Homo sapiens: one gene and its partners. The protein of the gene in region 2 interacts with the protein of the main gene of each other region in a pairwise test. Each region holds a gene or a part of one and is shown on either strand. Other genes may lie near its edges.

Region 1 (7,515 bases), on a different chromosome or scaffold from region 2:
CCAACTTGTGCTACCAAGTGAACAGACTATGAGTAAAGGCCTCTTCTTCCACTTTGCAGCTGCTCATATCATTGACAAACGAGCATATTAGAGCATGCATGCTGGCTGATCATTCTGATTAAGGCAACAAGCTTCACAACTCACTCAATGAGGTCGTCCGTGAGAACTTCACTGATTTTACGAGGACAGGAGCTACTTCTTTGCTGAAATGCATCACGGTTTCAACTGCTGAGGTTTTCCTCAACCTTTTGCATTGTTTGGAATGTGAGCAGCACGGCCGAGACAAACTTTGGGGTTCCCACTGCATTGTTAAACCTCCCCCTTCACTTCAAGGCCAGGCGAGCAAGGGAAAGGAGCGCGGCCTGGGCGTCCCGCAGGGCCCCGCTAAGGACCGCTCCCGCCTTGAGCGCAGCCACAGGCCCTCTCTGGCCACAAGGATGGGGTCGCCCCGCAGACACTGTTGACCAGCGGAAGCATGACCAGGAGGCGATTACCTTCTAATCACAAATAACTTTATTTTTAGGTAACACCACGGAGGACGCCATGAGAGCTAAGGCCGTTGGGTAACCGCCCTTTCCGCTCGCGCTGCGTCGTCTCCCTGCCCCGAACCACCGGCAACCGATGCTGGGAGCGGTTGAGGGCGGCCGGCTGCGCGCTGGAACCCCGCCCGCCTCAAGGCTCCTGCGCAGGCGCGCAGGGCAGGCGTGGAGCCCGCCCTGGGAGGGCCCCGCAGGAGATGGGGAAATGGAGGGACGCTGCACCAGGGCGCTTCCTGGGGCCAGGCGACGCCTTCTCCTTGGAGCCTCCAAGACCGTCCCTCCTAGAAACGAGAGAGTCTGACCGGGCGCGGTGGCTCACGCCTGTAATCCCAGCACTTTTGGAGGCTGAGGCGGGTAGATCACCTGAGGTTGGGGGTTCGAGACCAGCCTGGCCAATATGGTGCAATCCCGTCTCTACCAAAATTACAAAAATTAGCCAGGCGTGGTGGCGCGCACTTGTAGTCCCAGTTACTTGGGAGGCTGAGGCAGAATTGCTTGAACCCAGGAGGCGGAGGCTGCAGTGAGAGGAGATCACACCACTGCACTTCAAGGTGGGAGCAAGACTCCATCTCAAAAAAAAAAAAAAAAAAAGCTAGTACAGAAGCAACTCACTGACTTGAGTTTGTAGTAGCTTCAGAACAAACTTTCATCATCAGATCCTTTCTGCTCATTTGCAGGATTCCTACCGTCTGTCTCCACGTGATGACACTGAAGAGCCTTCACGTCTATGACGGCCTAGGGTCTCAAGTGCAGAGACTGAGAGCTCTGCCAGACACAGCATGGAGCCGCCATTCCTCTACTGTTCAGTGATTGGGTGGAAGAGCATCTGTCCTCTGAACAGGGGATCCAAGCCCTGAGATGATGTTTCTCAGCAGTCAGTGTGGCCCAGGACTTTCTGTGGGCATGCTCAGAGAGCAGGGGCCAGAGGACTTTTAGCCACCACCTTCTATGGCCAGTCTTCACAAATTACCTTTGGCTAATTTGATTGTCTCTCCTCCTGGGGTCTAGGACTTCAAACACATACAGAAGCGATTGCAGAATTGAAACAAGACACTTCCACAATATACTTTTTGTATCAGTGGCTCAGAAAAAGACTCATTCAAATCCTGTATCAAAGCCATGTGTGAGCATCTTGAGAAAGCATTGACTGACTAACTTGACAAGGGAGGAAGCAAACAAGAATTCTGCCCTTCTTCAGTGCCTGAGTGTGATATTTTGCCTCAACATCCCTCTTAGATGAAGTTACTGATTGAAAATCATTTAAGTTTTTGCCCCGTGATAAAAGATCGCGTCCTCAGAAAGATCTCCAAAGCATTTACTGTTTGTTTGGTTTGGTTTTGGTAAGTTTACCATGATTTTGCTTGAATTGCTCTCCGCTGATCTTCTCAGCTAAGATCGAGGTAGAGTTGCACAGCAGAAGAGGGCTGCATGTAAGGAGGCAGCTCTGTCTCGGAGGACAAAAGGCCTGGGAGCATCCAGACAGGCAGTCACTGTGTGGAGGTCACTCCCCTCCCAGTGGCCACTGTGGAGGCATTTCATAGAAATGCTCGCTGGACCATTCAGTTTTAGAGTTGGGACAAAACCGAGAACTCATGAGGATATCGGATAGGAGTTAGGAAATGACTTTTTCACACAACCCAGGCAAGGAGGGGAGAACCCTGGGCTTGAGACTTGCAATCCACTGCCTGCCCCTGCAGTGTGGCCCGTTACGTTTTCTGCAACTCTGCCTTCTTGAGTCCAAATGTCTTTGAAAGGGGCAAATGCTTCTTAAGTGCCAACAGGGTGTGTTTCAGTGAATGTTCACAGTGTGCACTGGTCCGGCTGAAGGCCTCTTCCCTTCCCCAACACCCACCCATCAGTGCAAAAGACTGCTGCCCAGCAGGGAGTGACATCTGTGTCTCAGATTTTCTTGCTGTGCTCTGAGTACTCACTCCTCATCTCCTTTGACCAGTTTCCTAACACTCCCCTTGTTCACAACACAGAACATGAGTGCTCTTTCCTGTCATTTTGACGCTGATAAACAGCAATTCTGTGTGAAAATGAGAATGAAGATTTTTTTAAAGACAGGCTACAATAATTCCCATGCTGAGAACCACATGTGATGACACTTGTGATGAAGATGAGGACAGCAACGAGCTGAGAGACTCCAACCAGGATTCACACATGCAAGGGGATGCATGAGAATGGGGATGGGACATTGGTGGTTAGCATCCTTGCTTGTCTCAGAATGGACGTGGGTTGTGGATTTCTAACTCCTGGAGAAACCAGAGTTCTAGGAATTGTAAGCCACTTTATGTTAGGAAAGAAAAAGACGGTGTTCTGCTCTCCTGTCCCTTAAAACTGTGCGTACTGCCACTAAACCTGGAAGCTGAGAACGGTATAATGGCTACTCCTGACTTCCTTTCATCAAATCAGCCTGCTATTGTTTTCTGCAATGGTTGTGGTGCAGAATCTTTTTGTGGTGCAGCCAAGATTCACACTTGAGTCTCCTTACTGCAAGTTCGCACTCTCACAGTGGAGAGTTAACAATAATTGCCTAATATGTTACACTTTTTTGGGAAGAGTTACCAGATAAAGTGCAAGATCCCAGTGAAATGTGAATAGCACAGATAAAGGACAGATTTTTTTTTTTGTAAAAGTGTACTCTAAATGTCATATGGATCATAATTATAGTAAAAACTAATTCACTGTTTATCTTCAATTCAAATTCCACTTGGTATTCTTTATTCATACTTGCTAAATCTGGCCACTATGTTCTTTCATGTATTTTTAATTTTAAAAAACAGTCCAACATCTCATTCTAGCAATTTACCTACAGAAATAAAGAGAGGAACCACATTACTGGGACAAATACAGTCACTGCAAATATCAGAAGAATACTAGAACATATTAATATATTAATTTTTACCCCCAAAAAACTGAAAATATTTTTAGACAGCAAAAATAGCTTCATTATGCTTTTGATTGCATAATATATCTCTGGAAAGATGAAAAAGAATCAGATAACACCTATTTCCTCCAGGAAAGAAAATGTGGTGGCCAGAGAAAAGAGGTGGGAGGAAGGCTGGTCATTGTCTATTCCACTGTGCACAATTTGAATTTGGAACCATGCAAAAGTATTGCTTAGTTAAGTTAAAATCATGTAAAAGATACAAAATAAACATTTAACACCAGCACAATATGCTGGGAAACAAAATGAAAGGATTTCTGGTCTCGGTGCTGTAGGTCACATAGCCTCTCTTTCCTGGACTGAGTCTTCCTAAGAAAGGGGACGGGAAGTAAGGCTGGCCTACTGGTGTGGACAGATTCCAGCAACATACATGACCTGGGGGCACAAGGACTGCTTCCTAAACAATGATGAGCACACAGCCACCTAATAGCCTGGATCAGCTGAGGCCATTCTGATTTCAAACACTCAGTCCCCTTGCCTTCCTAAGAACCCCTGTGTTTCTCAGACTGAAAACGTGTTCTGAATTTTGTTAAGTAAGTGTGGCCCCTGTTGAAATTCATCAAGAGTGGGAAAGAGCCAAAGTGGGAAGGAGCATGGGTTGATTGGCACAAAAGTAGGTCTGTTGATAAAGAATGGAAGTAAAGGGGACATCAGGTAGAAGCTTTTGCTGTGAGTCAGAAGGACAATTTAAAAGTTGCCTAAAGAGGCGCACACTGTCTGTGTTGCTGCCATCCAGTTGGATGGCAACCAACTGAACCAAGGGAACCTCAGGTTCTTGCCTACTGGCCAGAGCCCTTCACAGAATGTCCCCCACCCCCGCCAAGCCCGGCTGCCCACTGCCCCTCCCCCTCTGCAGAATGTCTGGGGTCCTGTGTTCCAAACCTGTTTATATGCAAATTATCCCTGCTCCACTTGGACTCAGGAGGATCTGCTGAGTCAGGTCACTCTCTGGGTCCTGCCCTTGACTTTTTTCATTGCGGAAGCTGCCAGACAGTGGTGGTCAGTGCCCAGCCTGAGGGGATGGCTTCAAATGGAGGTGAGCCTGTAGGGATGGGGCATTATCCGAGTCTGCCTTGCCTCAACTCCTTGGGAATTCAAATTTGAACTGTCCCTGGGGACAGCTTATAGGGCTGATGTTGAGGGAGGGAGCACTGGATGTCCCCAGGGACATCACACCTGGGGATGGCCATGGCACCCTGAGTCTGTGGTTAGGGAGGAGGGCTCCTTAGAGGCGGACCAAGATGCCTGGGGGAATACACCGTGTAGTGGAAAGGATGGAGAGGATGGGTTGATCCTTTCTAGAGGGGGACAGGTCACGTCATTGTGTTTGTAGGGAGTGGTGGGATCGTGTTGTGCTGGTGGCCCAGGGAGAATGACGGGCAAGCCTGAGCCCTGTGCCGTGTCTTCAGGCACCTGGAAGGTGCCCTTCCATAGTGTTTAGAGGGATTTGGACTGGAGTTTTCTAGTTCTTAGAGAGGAGTGGGGAGAAGTGGTCTCAGCCAGAAAACTGTTGGGTGGGTTGGCTGTGACAGAGCATGTAGTGACAGCCTCTGGGTGGGCAAGGCTGGGGGCCACTGCAACTGCCACAGCCCAGAGCCTCTCAGCTTCCTCCCCAGAGATGGCTTCTCCGTCAGTTCAGGTAGCTGTTGGCTTTGATTTAACAGGGGTGGGGGCAGAATGGGGAAGTTCAGGCAACACAGGGCCTGGGTTTCCTGAGTTGTTCTGAATTGTTTGCCCTTTGGTGGAAGCTCAGGTCTTCAGACCCACTTCCTCTCGTCAGCTAGCTCATGGCCCGTCCTCTGTACTTTGTGTTACTGTGGAGGTGAAGAATTTGCTCCTGTTCCATTTATACTACCTCATGAACGGGCGACAGGTGTGGATTCTTGCTGGTTCTCAGTGGAAGGCTCTGAAAAGGCTGGTTTCCTTTTCAGTAGAGGAAGGAGAGTAGCGCACAAATAGGAAGACAGTCCTATTATTATTATTATTCAAACTAGGATGTGTGTCCTGACTGATGAGGTGCATGTGCTGTATCCCTTATTCCCCTTGGCTAGAGACTGCATGAGGTCCTAGTGAACAGGGATGAGTTCCAGACAACTCTGCCTCACCTGGCCTGTGGCCCAAGAACCCCTGGTTCTTCGTTGGTCCCTATGTTCAGTTACTGGGAGCTCAAAGGAGAAGGACCAGAGATGGGCTCCCTGTCCCACTATTTAGTGTAACATGACTAGCAGCTGTGAAAATCCCTGGCCGGGCGCGGTGGCTCACGCCTGTAATCCCAGCACTTTGGGAGACCAAGGCATGTGGATCACGAGGTCAGGAGTTCAAGACCAGCCTGACCAATATGGTGAAACCCCGTCTCTACTAAAAATACAAAAATTGGCTGGGCATGGTGGCGGGCGCCTGTAATCCCAGCTACTCAGGAGGCTGAGGCAGGAGAAGTGCTTGAACCTGGGAGGCAGAGGTTGCAGTGAGCTGAGATCGCACCACTGCACTCCAGCCTGGGTGACAGAGCGAGACTCCGTCTCAAAAAAAAAAAAAAAGAAAAAAAAGAAAATCCCTAGACACCTCCCCTGATAGCCCTGCTGCTCACCATTTGCTGGCTGTGTTCTAGTCATGTGCAGCTGTTGCTGGCTACACAATGACAATATCTCAGGGGACTCCACCACTGCTTCTCAGATCTGCTCCCTGGGAACTGAGCTTCCTGAGTGGCAGCTGGGACCACTGAGCACTGAGGAATGGGTGGCCTGAATCTGACCCCTATTTAACACTTGTGTGGGTGGTGCCAGGACAATCACTTGCATGCTGGGCGTGATGTGTTATGGGTTATCTTCAGGGTTCCTAGGGCACTGGCTTGGGTGAGTTTCCATCCAGTGGTTTTCTTTTTTTTTTTTTTTTTTTTTTTTGAGACGGAGTCTCGCTCTGTCACCCGGGCTGGAATGAAGTGGCACGATCTCGGCTCACTGCAGCCTCTGCCTCCTCGGTTCAAGCAATTCTCCTGTCTCAGCCTCCTGAGTAGCTGGGATTACAGGCACGCACCATCAGCTAATTTTTGTATTTTAGTAGAGACGGGGTTTCACCACGTTGGCCAGACTGGTCTTCAACTCCTGACCTCAGGTGATCCACCCGCCTGGGCCTCCCAAAGCGCTGGGATGACAGGCATGAACCAGCACGCCCGGCCTATCCAGTGGTTTTCTTTTGTTGTGTTGAGCTAGGAAAGAAAGGGGTTTACAAGAGCTTCAGGGAAAGGAAGACTGAAGAGGAGATGGGGCCATAATATTCGGAAACTTCTGGTTTCCTGTCGGCCTTCTGAATGCCGAGCACTGCCCTGGGGTAGGCCCCTCACCTGCTGCTGAGCACACTGAGAGCCACCAAGCCACCGAGAGACTCATCCCTGACCCATGGCTTGGGAGATGCCTGTGAGGCTGGTGCAGTCTGCCAGGGACACCCGAGGGAGACCCTCAGAGACAGCAAAGGCTTGGCTGTTTCTTCTTGGCAGACAAGGGTCAGGGAGTCTTGGTGACTGGCGCCAGGCTCTCTAGTGGAGCGACTCTGCCGTGGAGGAACAGAGCATCTGATGCACACTCAGGGACACTTGCAAGCTGCAGAGTTTCCCTGTCACATGCCCTCAGCTGTTGGGACTCCCCTGATTCCCCAGTGACTAGTGTGGACCTGGAGACGCCAGCTCATTCACCTCTTTCCTTTGTCTCCACAGCATACCCAGTGCTGGGACCCGGCGTGACCGTGAACCCTGGCACCTCCCTGTCTGTGTTCACGGCTCTGCCCTTTGCCACACCCGCTCCCGGCCCAGCACACAGGCCGCCCCTCGTGACTGCAGTGGTTCCTCCAGCCGGCCCTCTGGTGCTCTCTGCCTTCCCCAGCACCCCTCTAGTGGCAGGACAGGATGGCCGCGGCCCGAGTGGGGCCGGGGCTTCCAACGTCTTTGTCCAGATGAGGACAGAAGTGGGGCCTGTGAAGCCCCCTCAGGCACAGACCTTGATCCTAACTCAGGCCCCCCTCGTCTGGCAGGCT
Region 2 (7,027 bases):
CATTCTAATTTACAATATCACATTTCACATCCCAGCTCTTACACATATGCATATGCAGCTGTGTGAATGTCTGGGTAAAATGTTCCTTTTAATTACACTTGAAAATGACAAAAGAAAGAAAATTATGAGACCCAAATTTTAGCTTTAGTTCACTTAAAACTTTTCACCTCCATTCATTCTTTATGCATCATATGAATATAATTTATATCCTATCAGGTTCACCAGAGAAGAAATAAAACAGAACAGCCAGCATTCTGAAAAAAAAAATTTTTAAATTCAATCCAAACATATAATCAGGAAAATCTTCATAATCACTTTGTGCATGATAAATTGTCGAGTAAGACTCAATGACAACACATTAATTCAAGTGACTTCAATTTTTTATTTTTTCTTATAATCTTTAGAAGATTGGAGAAGTATCATGTAGAATATCTCCCCTCCCCTCTCCCCACCATTCCTAATCATTCAAGAAAAACTGGGATCTAGGAAATGCATTAGTAGACTATCAGTGGTATTATTATGTACAATTGGTTAAAGCACCATGCTAATAATAAGGCCAGGGTCCTAGGACTGATCATTGCGAGGGCCAATTAGTTTAAATTTGTTCCATGGACCCAGACTGCACTCCTAACCACAGACAACTTTCTTACAATGCATCCCGCTGGTCACAAGCTAGGGTACTGGCAAGGTGGTAGATGGATGAAAACAAATCTCCACTAATGAAAGAAAAAAGAAAAGAAATCCCACGTATGCTGACAGTGGGTTAACAGAGTCTTATCTGTAAAGAAAAGAACACATATTTTCTTCGCTCTATGATAAACACGTTTCAAGTCTAAAATATTCAATGACAGTAACATTTGACTCTTGCATTTTAGAATAACATTCCACATAAAGCTATAATAAAGGCCCTGATAATTGTTACCCAATTTGTGTAACTGTTAATTCCACACAGAAATTCTTTTCTCTTTACGGTTATATCTATGCACCATGATTTTTGCATATTTACCATTCGTTATTTGGTTCAGAATATTGTGAAAAATTCAGCTCGAAAATTATCCATAAAACTGTATTCTATATTTTATTTTTCAAACAGCCAGTGTCCACATTTAAAATGCAGAATTTGCAAATATTAGTCTAATAATTCAATTTAAAGTAAAGCAAAACAACTTCCTTTAGTATCACAATACATAAAATGGTTTTATAAACTCCAAATGGCAAAGATAACTATATGACAATAGTGTTGAAAGCCGTGAAACTCATTAAACCTCTTATCAATAGGTCAGTTTAAAGAACATCTCTATGTTCCATGACTATGCATGAAACAAGCTGTCACTGTATTATAAAGGCTCAGCAATTCATTCATGGCATAATATAGGGTCAAGCAAGATTTTGTTTTTACAATGACAATTAAAACATATTTAAAGAAACAAAAAACCTCCCAATTGTTTAAAAACAATTCTATTTGGAGAGCAAAATATTTTAAAATATATCGACTTACCAAATTTCAATTGTCAGGCTGCTGACTACTGATGTAAAAGTTTATATTTAAAAATATCACAAATCTCTTTTTATTTAACACTGAAAATTTCAATGTGATAAGTTTCATTGCAAAGCAACTGTCACCTGAGTAGATTTTAAAATTTAGTGCTCCTATTTTTTGGGGGAGAGGGGAAGGAAAGACCCATTTTGTATCTGATCCCGAGTTTGCAGTTGAGTCCTTCCCAATGATTTCTTAGGGAGTTGAAGAAACAACCTGCTGCAACCTTCCCAAGACACACGATGCCCCCCTTTCCCTCGGAAATTTGCTCTAGCATTTTAGGAACTCTCAGTATTCATCAAATATTTCCATTTCACTACCCACTCAAGCATAGCAACCCAATTCATTTAGTTCTATACAACAGTGTCTATATTATGTACATATTTAATTATCAATAGGAAATAGAAAATAAAAATTTACAGTGATTGAGAAAAGGTCAGAAAATGGGATAGGAATAGTAATACTGTATAATCAGAATATCCTATTATCTTACCAGTTTTAATGACAGGGTTTTTCCTTTATTAGTTGAAATACAAAGAAGGCATAGGGGATCCCAGGAAAATAACACTATATATCAGAAAATTCAACGTGCTCCACCATCAGGATTTCCATCACACACATTTAATTTCTTCTGTACAATGTTTATAAACTTGTTTTTCTTTTCAAAATCATCAGATTTTCAGATTAAATTCAGCACTACACAGTATGCCCTTGAAGTAAAATGAGGTTACCTGCTTTATTTGGATACCAAGTTCCCTTCAGACAGCATTAAAATAAAGACAAGTAAGACTACACAGATAAAATCCAGTATAATTCAAATCCAACAATGAAAAATTTCCCCCATATTGTTGCAAAATTCTTTCTACTGAAATGCTTTGCTACAATAATAAAAAGCATACATTACATATAAAAGATACCAGTGTACTAAAAAGTGACAGAAGTGGACTAGCAAATCCTTCAAAGCACATTATATAAATGACTAGCATTTAAAAACATTTTTTCCTATAAAATGTAGGTCATATACATTTATAAATTGGCGGTTTTATTTCTAAAGCAGTGATGTGTGTGTTCAAATAGCTGTCCTGTACAGTATAATATCTACTCACTTGAAACTATAATAGGTTTGTCTTTCTTTGTATTGAAGTTGAATAAATTCATCTGATCAGCTGAGAAACCAAGCTTGAAAAATAAGTATCTAAAAATCAATGTAGAAAGTTTAGAATTATTGAAATGTAGTTATGAAATATGAAGAGAACTATCTATTTCACAATGGAGCTGAAGTCACCTCAAAACTTACGGGCTTGAATCTAAAACAGAAACAAATATTAAAATCCAAAGCAAATCACAAAGTTAGGTAGCAGTACAGAAGCAGGAAAAAAAACCACATCCCTTCCTTCAGTGTGATGGGCACTAAGTTTTGCGGTCTTCCTCCATCTTGCAGAAGAGTGGTAAGGCCATTCAATGCTTAGTGAAAGTGAGTACAGATGAAGTCAGATTTAGCCTGTCTCCCCTGCAACTTCAATTATGCTGTGTAAACAGTGTTACGTTCCAATAGGAGGAACAATGGAATTTGCTTATAAAAACTGATTAAAGATAATCATTATTAAATGAAATAAGGATAATTAATAACTCTGAAATGTTTTTAGAACTTTCCTGATGCTACTTGTAAAGTTAGCACTGCTATGTATTATTGCTTACATACAGTACAACATCATATGCCTTCTAACATAAAGCAGTACTGTGATTTGTTTGTACATATTTACAGATTCTTAAAAACAAGCTGTAAAAACATTACATACTTTCAGACAATACAAATTAGCACATTGGTACTCACTTCAAAACAAATGGAATGCATAACATTAATAAACATCATAAAGGAAGACTCACATAAAAGTCCTTGATTGTCAAGACACGTTTATATATAAACTCTAACTGTGCAGAATTAAAGATTCAATCATAGGTACATCCTTATTTGATGAACCATATTTACAGCATGGTATTGCATAAAAAAATAAAATAATGTTTACAGGGTTTTACTTTTTTATCCATTGGATTAAAGAAAGCAACAAACATAACAAGAAATGTTTGTCTGCTTTAGTTTGTTTCCTACCAAAGTTTAAGTGAAAAAAGGAAACACGGTTTTTATTTGCAGAATATAGCAAAACAACTGGAAAATTATTTCCCTGAAATAAAGCAATTTGAAACGGAAAATTAAATTAAATTTCAGACTCAAAATACTTCTCAATGATTATTATAGTGCTTCTTCAAGTAAATATACTGTGAAAAAAAAATGAGTTCTAGTTTAAAATGTTCTAAGAAATGCAGTACTACAGTAATGCCTACTTTTAAAGTTTCCCGGCCTTTTTTTTTTTTTTTTAAACAGCCCTTTAAAAACCCAAATTAATCAAATGAAAGAAGCGGCAAAAGATCTAACCTAGCTGGCACTCTGCAAGTGTCTCTCCTCTGTGGAAACGAAATCCTGCCCTGAGCACAATTCTTGACATAACTGCCTTCTGCCTCTTGAGATAAAAATGACCTGACCGATGGCTGGCACCCTCAGCCAGAGCTAAGAAGATGGATTCCTACCTTGTTAAGTACCACATTTGCATGTAGACCCAAAACGTTTAAGAGCCACTTAAATATTCAAGACAAATGAAATATGTGAGAATAAGGTTTTAAAAAACCCTTTAGAAGATGTTCAAGAGATACTGCCTCGCCTAACGTGATGTTTCCAATCTTCAAACGTGAGTAGGTCCCAAGAGGAAAAGCACACCTCACTCAGATTGATCAAAAGTTTAAGGGTGTACCAGCATGTTTTTATAGAACAATGTGCTCACTTTGAGAAATGAGAAACATGAATTGCAGAAGAATATCTCATATCCTCCATGTTTCAATCTGAAGCAGCACACAAGGCTACTTATTTTCTCCATTAATGCCCAGATAGAAATTAAATAACCTTCTGAACCAAAGTGGGGAAATCCAAAACTGTTGAGATGTTTGTCATATTATGATAGAACAAGGTAACTCTGGTAGGCATTTGGAATTTCACAGTAAGAGAGTGATGACTATACGTAAATGGTAAGTCAATAAGTTATGCTGGCTGAGTATCACTTATCTAAAAACTGCTTATAACCTGGTAGAAAAGTCTGCCATTATGTAGATTTAAAGAAATGTGTTGAAAACAGGAATGCAACACCTGAAAGTCTGCTTGCATAACTACCATTTTCAAAGGCCTTCCTTCCCAAGCTCACCCTAAATGCTCAGCAAGAGTCACATTCTAAAAACTATGCTGGTGATGTTAAAACAACCGAAAAAAACCTCTCCACTGTATCAAAATTGCATCAAGTTCTCCATGAACAAAATTTTTGATCAGGCTCCAAAACAACTCAAGAAATAAATGCCTACTCTCACCAAAAGAGAAAAATACCAATGCCTATTTAGGGTGAGCACAGTTCCATTTTTAACGTATCACCTGAATGAAGCCTTTTTGTAATTATGTAATGCACAACACAACACACACAATCTTAAGAGTCAATAATGGCAGAACTTAAATATTTACTTCAAAGAAGTCTTAAATTCTTGAAAACTTTGGCAGCAAAGAAAGCTGTCAAACGGGAAAACTACTATTTCAAGCAAAACTTAATAACCAAAGTATACAGGAAACCACATTAAATATAATTTATATTCCTTATCATAAAAACACCAATATATTCAAAATAAATGAAGGATGTTAAGGGTGGATAGTTATTTCTTCCCTTTCTTTATGAGAACAGTCTTGGGATAACATTAAATAAAAGAAAAAATAATTTAAATGGATAACATATTCTATATTGAAACAAAGACTGCAGAGCTATAGGGCCAGTATAAGAGTCAAAATGGAAATTAAGAATATTTTCATTTTCCAAGGGTATTAATTTTAGATTTTCACTGGTGCTATATCAGGATGTGCATTGTGACAACGATGGCAGAAAATTTAAAATGTAAAAATGAAAAAGTTGTAACAAAGAGTCAATAACTAATATAACTTCCAAAAATCAAAACTGCCCAACGCATAACTCAAACCATCATTCTTCAGAAAAGTGTGTGTGTGTATATATACATAAAAGCACTATTTATTGTACCATGCTGTATTATTTTAAGACAGAGTATTAAAAAAAAACATTCATGGTATAAGGATAAAGTCTGTAGTTTATTTAGATTTTGAAATGCAACAAAAATTTTCCGATCACTCATCTAGCTGAAAAAGAAATGGTAGTTACTGGAATTAGTAAACACTTTTGGTTTGTAAAGTTGTAATGAGCAGTGTTCATTAAAAAGTAACTCAAGATAAAATATGCAATTAAAATGCCCATTTCTTTAGTTTCTCTGGATACTGTTTAATTATCCAATCTATCAAGAGTCTAGAAAGAAAAAGATTAAACCAGGTTTTACAGTTCCAAAGATATCCCAATTTCCTTTTATTGCCAAAAGTTAAAATTGTCAATTACGAGATGATTATGACACAACCATATCAAACCTAAAAATCTAATTTTTTTTTTACTTTGAGAAATCAAAAATACCAAATAGATTCTAAGTGCTCTATGTTAACTGAAGTGTATATGTAAAGTAAAATACAATTAAGCTTTAAAACGTGGAATATACATTTTGTGTAAGCATTATGTTCTTGGGAATGTAATCTACAGAATTTCTTTTACTAAAACTTCAAAACCTTGATACCTGCACATGAAAAATCATAAAAAATATCTAAGTACAACTGTACAAAGAAACTGACACCAATATGCATACTTCCATAGAGAAGTGACTGCTTCAACAGTTGTGTGTTTTGGTAAAAGTTCTGAAAGTATGCATATTTTTAAAGTAATTAGGCTTTTAAATAGTGGAGTCTTAGACTATCAGATTTTTATTACTTTTTTTCCTTCAAAAAAACACGTCAATATAATGCAAAATGAAAATCAAGGGTATATGGCATATCATTCTTTTTAAAAGGTGGTTTCTTGGTTTTTTTCCCCCTATAGGACACACTAATTTATTTAAGCCATAATCTCTTGACATTAAACTTTTAAGTTCACTCTGTCTGTAAAGTATACTCAGATTCCCTGCTGAAGTGCAATGACTATGCTGAAAAACTTAGAAACAGTATGAGTAAATTTCACACAATTACTAATCTCCTAAGAATGTACAATGTTATCAGTTAGGAAACAATTGTGCGAAAGTCTTTTTTTTTTCCTTTTTAACTTGGTGTGGGTGGAATAGCAAGTTTCTGATCTAAAACAAGTAATGCATTGCTTCTATAAAGGTGACAACATGTAAGGCAGTTCAAAGAATGCTGACTAACCAAACGAAATGCAGTTATTGGATTATCTTGCTATTCATATCAGCTTAACTTGTTATTACGCATTGCTCTTAAATCTGTACAGCACTCCATTTACACAGAGTAACCCCACTCTTGATTAATCTGTTCTAAAGTGCCAGTATTATTTACACTTTTTT
Region 3 (7,027 bases), on a different chromosome or scaffold from region 2:
CCTGGACATAATGGAATCTCTGGCTGGTTCTGGTTTGATGAATGACTTTTAGGAAGCAGGTGCACACCTGTGCTTCCAGGCACCCATGGGTGTCATCGTAGTTCCCCAAATACCTCATTTATACTTAGTAATAGATTCATTCCAGCCAATGTGGGGGCAGTCTTTTTTGTATTATGTTAGACTGACCTGATTTGACTTTGAGATGTTGCAGTGTTTTCTCAGTGTGTTTCTGAGAAAAGAAAAAAATTATGTATTTCTAAAATTGAGATGCAGTGCAGGCAATTGGCAATGAGGGTTTCTTTTTTTACATCTCCGGTAATACTGTTGTCCCCTTTAAAAATCTGCTATAACAATGTCATTATTATGGAATGCTGCATGTATTCTAAATAACTTTTTAAACTTTAGAATTCTCAGAAAATCGACCGATTAGATGGTGCACATGCCCCAGAGTTGACCAAAAAAGTTCAGCGACATGCATCTAGTGGCTCCTTCCTACCCAGCGCTAATGAACATCTTAAAGAAGATCTCAACCTTCGCTTGAAGAAATTGACTCATGCTGCCCCCTGCATGCTGTTTATGAAAGGAACTCCTCAAGAACCACGCTGTGGTAAGAAGCTGCCTTTAACATAATATAAACAAAATGGGTGCTTTCCCAGAATGGGGTATGGTTGAGATGGGCATCCTGTTTCCAAGGATGCTATACCATACATCTTATACTTGTGTTCACATACTTTTAGAAAATCAAAAAGGTTATAATTCCCAATGACACTATATAAGAATTAGTTTGCATTATGGACTCAGCATGTTGGAACCAAAAGGGGTCTCAGAACTCATCTAATTCAGATTTTTGTTTTATACTGAAGTCCTCAGACTCAAAGATAGAGGTGACTTGCCCAAGGTCACCTGGTAAGCAGAGTTAGGATTAGGTTCCAACTACCATATTGCTGTCTCTTTTGCCTGTTTATCTACTTTTGCTGTTAACAGTTATTTTTTCTTTCTTGGCAGCCTCCTGTTTTTCACCTAGTTCAGATTCAGCAATTAAAAAATTTGCGGAATTTTTCAGTGTTTTTGTGTCCAGCCTGTGTGCTTTTGCCTCCCCTGTGTCATCACTGTCTAATGATTCTCTTCCTGCATTGCTGTCATTTCCAGTTTATAGCTGCTGGTAATGGAAAGATTCCGAATTCTTGGCTTGTAGTCACTCTTATTTTCTGTACACATGGATGCTTATAATTTTGTCCTTAAGTAAGTTTTAGAGTTATTTGACCCCTCTGGTAGTGGGTTTATGTTATTTTCTTTTTACTGTGCCTAGTACAACATTAGTATGCTGCATAATTGAGCATTTAATGCCATTTGATGATGCTGTTGAGACTCTAAGAGTATTTGTATCAACTACACAGGAGGGACTTTATTAAGATAGGGGCAGTAACATTGAGTATGCTCTTGATATGATTACAGCATGTCCAGAGTGACTTTATAAAGATAGCCAAGCTTCTAGTGTGAATTTGATTCTAAATTCTTCCCTGTAGGGTTATTAAATTACATATTAGCTTATGATAATGTCTAGTTTTAAAAATAAAGTTTCATGATGAATTCTTATTTTTTCGAGATGGAATTTCGCTCTTGTTGCCCAGGTTGGAGTGCAATGGCACGATCTCAGTGCGACGGAACCTCTGTCTACTAGGGGTCAAGCGATTCTCCTGTCTCAGCCTCCCGAGTAGCTGGGATTACAGGTGTCCACCACCATGCCCGGCTAATTTTTTTGTATTTTTAGTAGAGATAGGGTTTGTCCATGTTGGTCAGGCTGGTGTCAAACTCCTGACCTCAGGTGATCCGCCTGCCTTGGCCTCCCAAAGTGCTGCTGGGATTATAGGCGTGAGCCACCATGAATTCTGTCTTAAAAGTATCTCTTAGTTCTGCCTAAAAAATTTCCCTGCCAGTATTTATGTGTCAGATAATGCCTGCTATTTGTGTATTGCAAAGCTAACTTAGTCTGTACTAAACTAAAGGTAGCAACAGATAGTCTCTGTTGCGTTTGTTATTTTGTTTTTAACGGGGGTTGCAAATGGTTCACATTCACCTTCTTCCATGAAACATGAAAATTATTTCTTGTACTTTGTGCGGTGGCCACTAAATGGGAACTTACCACTTCAGTTGAATGGATTGTATTCAGCACCTTCATTCAGATCTCAGGTACAGTAGAACTGGCTGTGAAATGTGGGTGAAGCACACCTACAGTGAAATCTCTACAGTATTCTCTCCTTTGGGGTTGAACAGCAGCAGTCTCAGTCTTTTCTGAATGATAAACCTAATGAAAAGGCAGGTGGCAACACTGAAGCTTGGGGAAGGAGTGCTCAGAGGAGAAGGATGTCCTGGGAAGTGTGCTGCACTGGGTGTCATGCCAGGCGAGCCTCAGGCCCACCCCTGCGGCCTTAGCAACTTTGGGGACAAGTCAGGTACCCTCCTTGTGCCTTTAATTCCTTCTAGTGCTGTTGGGAACAAGATTGGCTGTTGGAGCCAATCTTGGAGGGCCTTTTCAGTGTAGATATTGTATGATTATTCAAGTAAATTAGAGAGAAACTTAGACATTTTAATTTTTCTGCTTACCTTTTACTTTATTAAACTGAATTTAAAATATACTGCTAGCATTTTTATATTTATATTAAACTTATTTAAATTATGTTTATTATAATGGAGTGAGATTTGGAAGACTGTACAAATAACAGAATAAAAAAGAAGCTTTGAAATATTTCAGGGCTGGGCGTGGTGGCTCATGCCTGTAATCCCAGCACATTGGGAGGCTGAGGTGGGCGGATCGCTTGAGATCAGGAGTTCGAGACCAGCCTGGCCAACATGGCGAAACCCCGTCTCTACTAAAAATACAAAAATTAGCTGGGCATGGTGGAGTCCTGTAATTCCAGCCACTTGGGAGGCTGAGGCAGGAGAATTGCTTGAACCTGGGAGGCAGAGGTTGCAGTGAGCCGAGATCGAGCCACTGCACTCCAGTATGGGTGACAGAGTGAAACTCTGTCTCAAAACAAAACAAAACACATTTCAGAGCCATCTGAAAACGTAGTATTATAGTTATTTAATTAATAAAAGACAATAAATATTTTGAGATACATATGGTTGAATGGTTACAGTTTCTTCTTTTAAAGTACTTCTATATAATTTTTATAACTACATTTTCAGTGGGTTTTTCTGTTTCCTGATATTTTCTGTTTCATGTCTTTCTGTCACATATAGTAAATAGATCATTTAAGAATGTTGCTGTTCTTTAATAAAATACTTAGGATTAATTGGAAAATATTTTTAAACTGTTTTCTTATGGGAACATAAGTCACCTCGACCCTCTGCTGTTCCTTTCTGAGCCTGGTTAGTGGAGCATTGTTTTTGCTCTTCTTCTGGCATTTTAGAGAAGGGCGTAGGCAAAGCTCCCTTTATAAAAGCACTGGCCATCTCATCTTGTGAACACGCACGTGGCTGCTCTTTCCTTATTTTGCACCAAATTAGCTTTGAAAGTGCTATCTCTGCTAACACCACTGAACTCCCACTGCGGAGTATTTTGATGTTTGTTTTTTGATTAGTTTGTCCCCACCTTGCTTTCTGCTAATCAGAAAAACATGAATGAATAACATTTAAATTTTATATCTAGAAAACCTTGAAAGCCATTTTTAGGGTCTCTCCTGGAGCCCCACTGGACTCAGCCTAACCCCTGCACAGGTCATGTCTCCATCTTCTTATCCTTCATGTGGGCTCTACCTGCAGAATTGTATGGTGTGTTATGAGCCTGACGTGTAGATAGGGTCTCAGTTGAAAAGAATTGGATTGTCCTTACTCTGTGCTCCTCATGAAGATGGGAAAATGCTTGTTTTAGGAAGAGTTTCCAGAAGCACTGAGGTATATGTCATCTTAAACAGAATCTTAAATCCTTGAGCAGGTTAATTATTTGGGAATTCTTATAACTATTTCAGTTAACAAAGCTTTTAGCAAAGCAAAAGGTATTTGAGGCATAGTCAGATATTCCTTCTGCAGTGAGAGTCATCCAGCCGGGCTCTTACTTTTGAATCAGCCACAGAATCAGGTTTCAGAGATGTTTTTTAGGGTTTATTGTTAGGTAGTGATGAGATGCGGTGTTAGGCACCTATTCATGTCATGAGTAGAAATGACTGGGGGTGGAAATGGGGATTCTGTGGCAGTTAAACATTACTTTTCTACATTTAAATATTTTTATTGCATGCATGCATTTTTCTTAAAAAAAGGTGTGTAAATATTTTGTTACTAGAATAAAGCCTTCTTGCCATCTTATCCTTAAGCGTAACATTTCTAGTCTGCCACTTTAACTCTTAAAAATGAAACACTACCAATCAATCTTTCTAGTCTGCATGTAATTGCCTAAAGCTAAAATAAAGCTTCTTCTCAGCCAGTTACAGTAAAAATGAGTTAATATATTGGCAACAGAATAACCATCAGCAATCAGCCGTTAGCTGTTTACTAATGAACTCCCAGATGAATAAAAAAATTTCAGAATCAGTGTTTTACTTCAGGCTGTACATGAACTTAACACTTCAGATGTAGGAAAAGCAACTTATATGCTATACAAATAAATACTAGTGCTTCATCTCAATAAACTGCAGATTTGGAAAATGTTTAGAGCTCACTTGTAGATCCATGTTTTAATAGTAAATATGATTTTGGGTGACATCAGTAAAGCCCATTCTTGCAATTAATCTTATATTGAATTTTATGGTTTGATTTTATTTAAAAACAATTGCTGACACTGCTAAGTCTTATAGAAATTTTGAATCTGAAGAATAGGTTCTTTTCCAGTGAATTACAACTGTGTTTGAGAAGAAGAATGAGGCGTGAAAGAGTAGGGCCCTACATAGTATTGGGAACAATGGAGAAGAATTAGCTTATGGAAAGAAAAATACTTTTTTTTTCAGACTAGGCTAATAGGTTTATAAAAGACTGATATTCACACTCTTATTCTTCAGTTATAATGTCATAATAAGATGATGTCAAAAAAGTACAGAATAAAAATGTGTCACAAAAGTATAATAAAATCATGGAACATAAAATTGTCGCTATAGTGTAGTAAAAAAATTACATTACATACTTTAGGGAATGTAAATAGTTTTAAAAAAGAAACTGTCAAGTTATGACATGAGATGAGAAAGAATACCGTCAATCTATTGATGGTTCATATATAACAACAGAGAAGATAGCTTTAAAATTCAATGTACTGTGTGTATTTTAGACTACAGGAGAACACATGCCTTCTTGATTTCTAATTTATCCTACTTAGAGATAGTGAAGATTGAGAACTACTGAAGTGGGAACTCAGGAAGTAGTAAAATGGCAGTAGAAATGCAACAGCATTGGGTTTTAAGTATAGTCAAGTAGTAGTTAAAAATAACAATTGTAGAATTTTTTCATCTGCCCAGAATTGATTCTCATAGATTCATAACAGAAAGGCTGGGAGGGACTGTCAGAGCATCAGGTCAGTCTCCTGATTAGTAGGAAAGTGCTGAGCGGAGGCCACCCATGGCCTCATCATGTGTCACCTTGGTGGGTGGAGGGAGCAGGTGTCAGATTCAGATTTCTGGTTTTGTTTAAAGACAAGGTCTTGCTTTATCACTCAAACTGGAGGCTGGAGTGCAGTGACAATCTCATAGGTCGCTCCAGCCTCAGACTTCTGGGCTCAAGTGAGCCTGTTGCCTCAGTTTCCCCAGTCTCTGGGATTACAGGTGTGCACCATCACCCCCAGGTCTCTGCTTTTTGGCTAGTGCTATTTCTCCTGTGACAAAAAATGTCCATGATATTGAAGAATAACTTTAATAAATACACACACCACTTTTTTTTTTTTTTTCAGTAGTCACAGTTGTGTCAAAAAGTTAAGTCATATCTGAGTGTGTGATATGGTTCAAGGTCAAATAAGGGGATCCAGGAATTTATTTTCTCTTTGTATATTATTCAGCCATGCTAATTAAATCACCAGCAAAATAAGGCAGGCGTCTATGTCTTTTAGATGATATGTACGCTGAACTAATGTATTATCATGTGTATGTGTTTTGGGAGAGAGAAGTTAAGTGCTTTATTTCTTTTTTTGTGTACAGGTTTCAGCAAGCAGATGGTGGAAATTCTTCACAAACATAATATTCAGTTTAGCAGTTTTGATATCTTCTCAGATGAAGAGGTTCGACAGGGACTCAAAGCCTATTCCAGTTGGCCTACCTATCCTCAGCTCTATGTTTCTGGAGAGCTCATAGGAGGACTTGATATAATTAAGGTTAGAATTGAGAAGTCTGTGCTTTGTAAAGAAATTCCATTTAGAGCATACTTTTTAAAATGTTGTGATAAATCTAAGATACAAATTTCTTATGAATCTATATTTACTAATAAGAACCTGCAATGAATACACAGTATTTCTGATTAGTTGATTGATCAATAATCTGTGTTATGGTATGATCAAGGAGATTTATGTTATAATAATTTTTTTCATAAAACTGGTATGTGTGCTTATTTTAGGAGCTAGAAGCATCTGAAGAACTAGATACAATTTGTCCCAAAGCTCCCAAATTAGAGGAAAGGTAAGTGTTTTAGAAGGTTTCAAATAGCCTATCATTTAATATATTAAAAATATTTTAAAGTCCTCAGGTTTTGCATTGCTCTTTCTGTGTAGAAATCAAGGATTTGGTATGCCAGACGTCATAATTGTTTAGTCACATTAGCCATTCAAACTTTGGCAAATCTAATTTGTATTGGAGAAATTTTAGCACCAACTTAGTGATCATGTGGAGGATCTGCTTTGCTTTTATAGAAATGTCATTGTTTCTGTGGAACAACCAAGTTTTGCTTACCTCTCTGCATTTCAGAGCCAGGGTCCAGTTGTTTTGTCACTGCTCCTTGGCGTAACCTCAGCACACTCGTGTTTTACTGGGTGCAGCCTTGGTGACTGCTGCGGGTGCTGCCCCAACGCCAGAGCACTGAGTGACAAGTGGTGAGTGTGAAAAACTCATCACCTCGC

The links. The genes of interacting proteins can lie anywhere in the genome.
Region 1: the proteins of ZNF148 (region 2) and NUTM2F interact in a two-hybrid assay, tested with the Homo sapiens proteins (3 studies listed by BioGRID and IntAct).
Region 3: the proteins of ZNF148 (region 2) and GLRX3 interact in binary tests that used the Homo sapiens proteins (3 or more experiments, as listed by UniProt).

Annotation. Positions count from the first base shown.
Region 1 is NC_000009.12:94,325,618-94,333,132, reverse strand, and holds the start of NUTM2F (NUT family member 2F), read left to right. Parts: upstream 1-4,488; 5' UTR 4,489-4,509; coding exon 4,510-4,525; intron 4,526-7,198; coding exon 7,199-7,515.
Region 2 is NC_000003.12:125,225,307-125,232,333, forward strand, and holds the end of ZNF148 (zinc finger protein 148), read right to left. Parts: 3' UTR 363-7,027; downstream 1-362. UniProt on the Homo sapiens protein: Involved in transcriptional regulation. Represses the transcription of a number of genes including gastrin, stromelysin and enolase. Binds to the G-rich box in the enhancer region of these genes.
Region 3 is NC_000010.11:130,160,391-130,167,417, forward strand, and holds part of GLRX3 (glutaredoxin-3), read left to right. Parts: intron 1-405; coding exon 406-607; intron 608-6,116; coding exon 6,117-6,289; intron 6,290-6,528; coding exon 6,529-6,590; intron 6,591-7,027. UniProt on the Homo sapiens protein: Together with BOLA2, acts as a cytosolic iron-sulfur (Fe-S) cluster assembly factor that facilitates [2Fe-2S] cluster insertion into a subset of cytosolic proteins.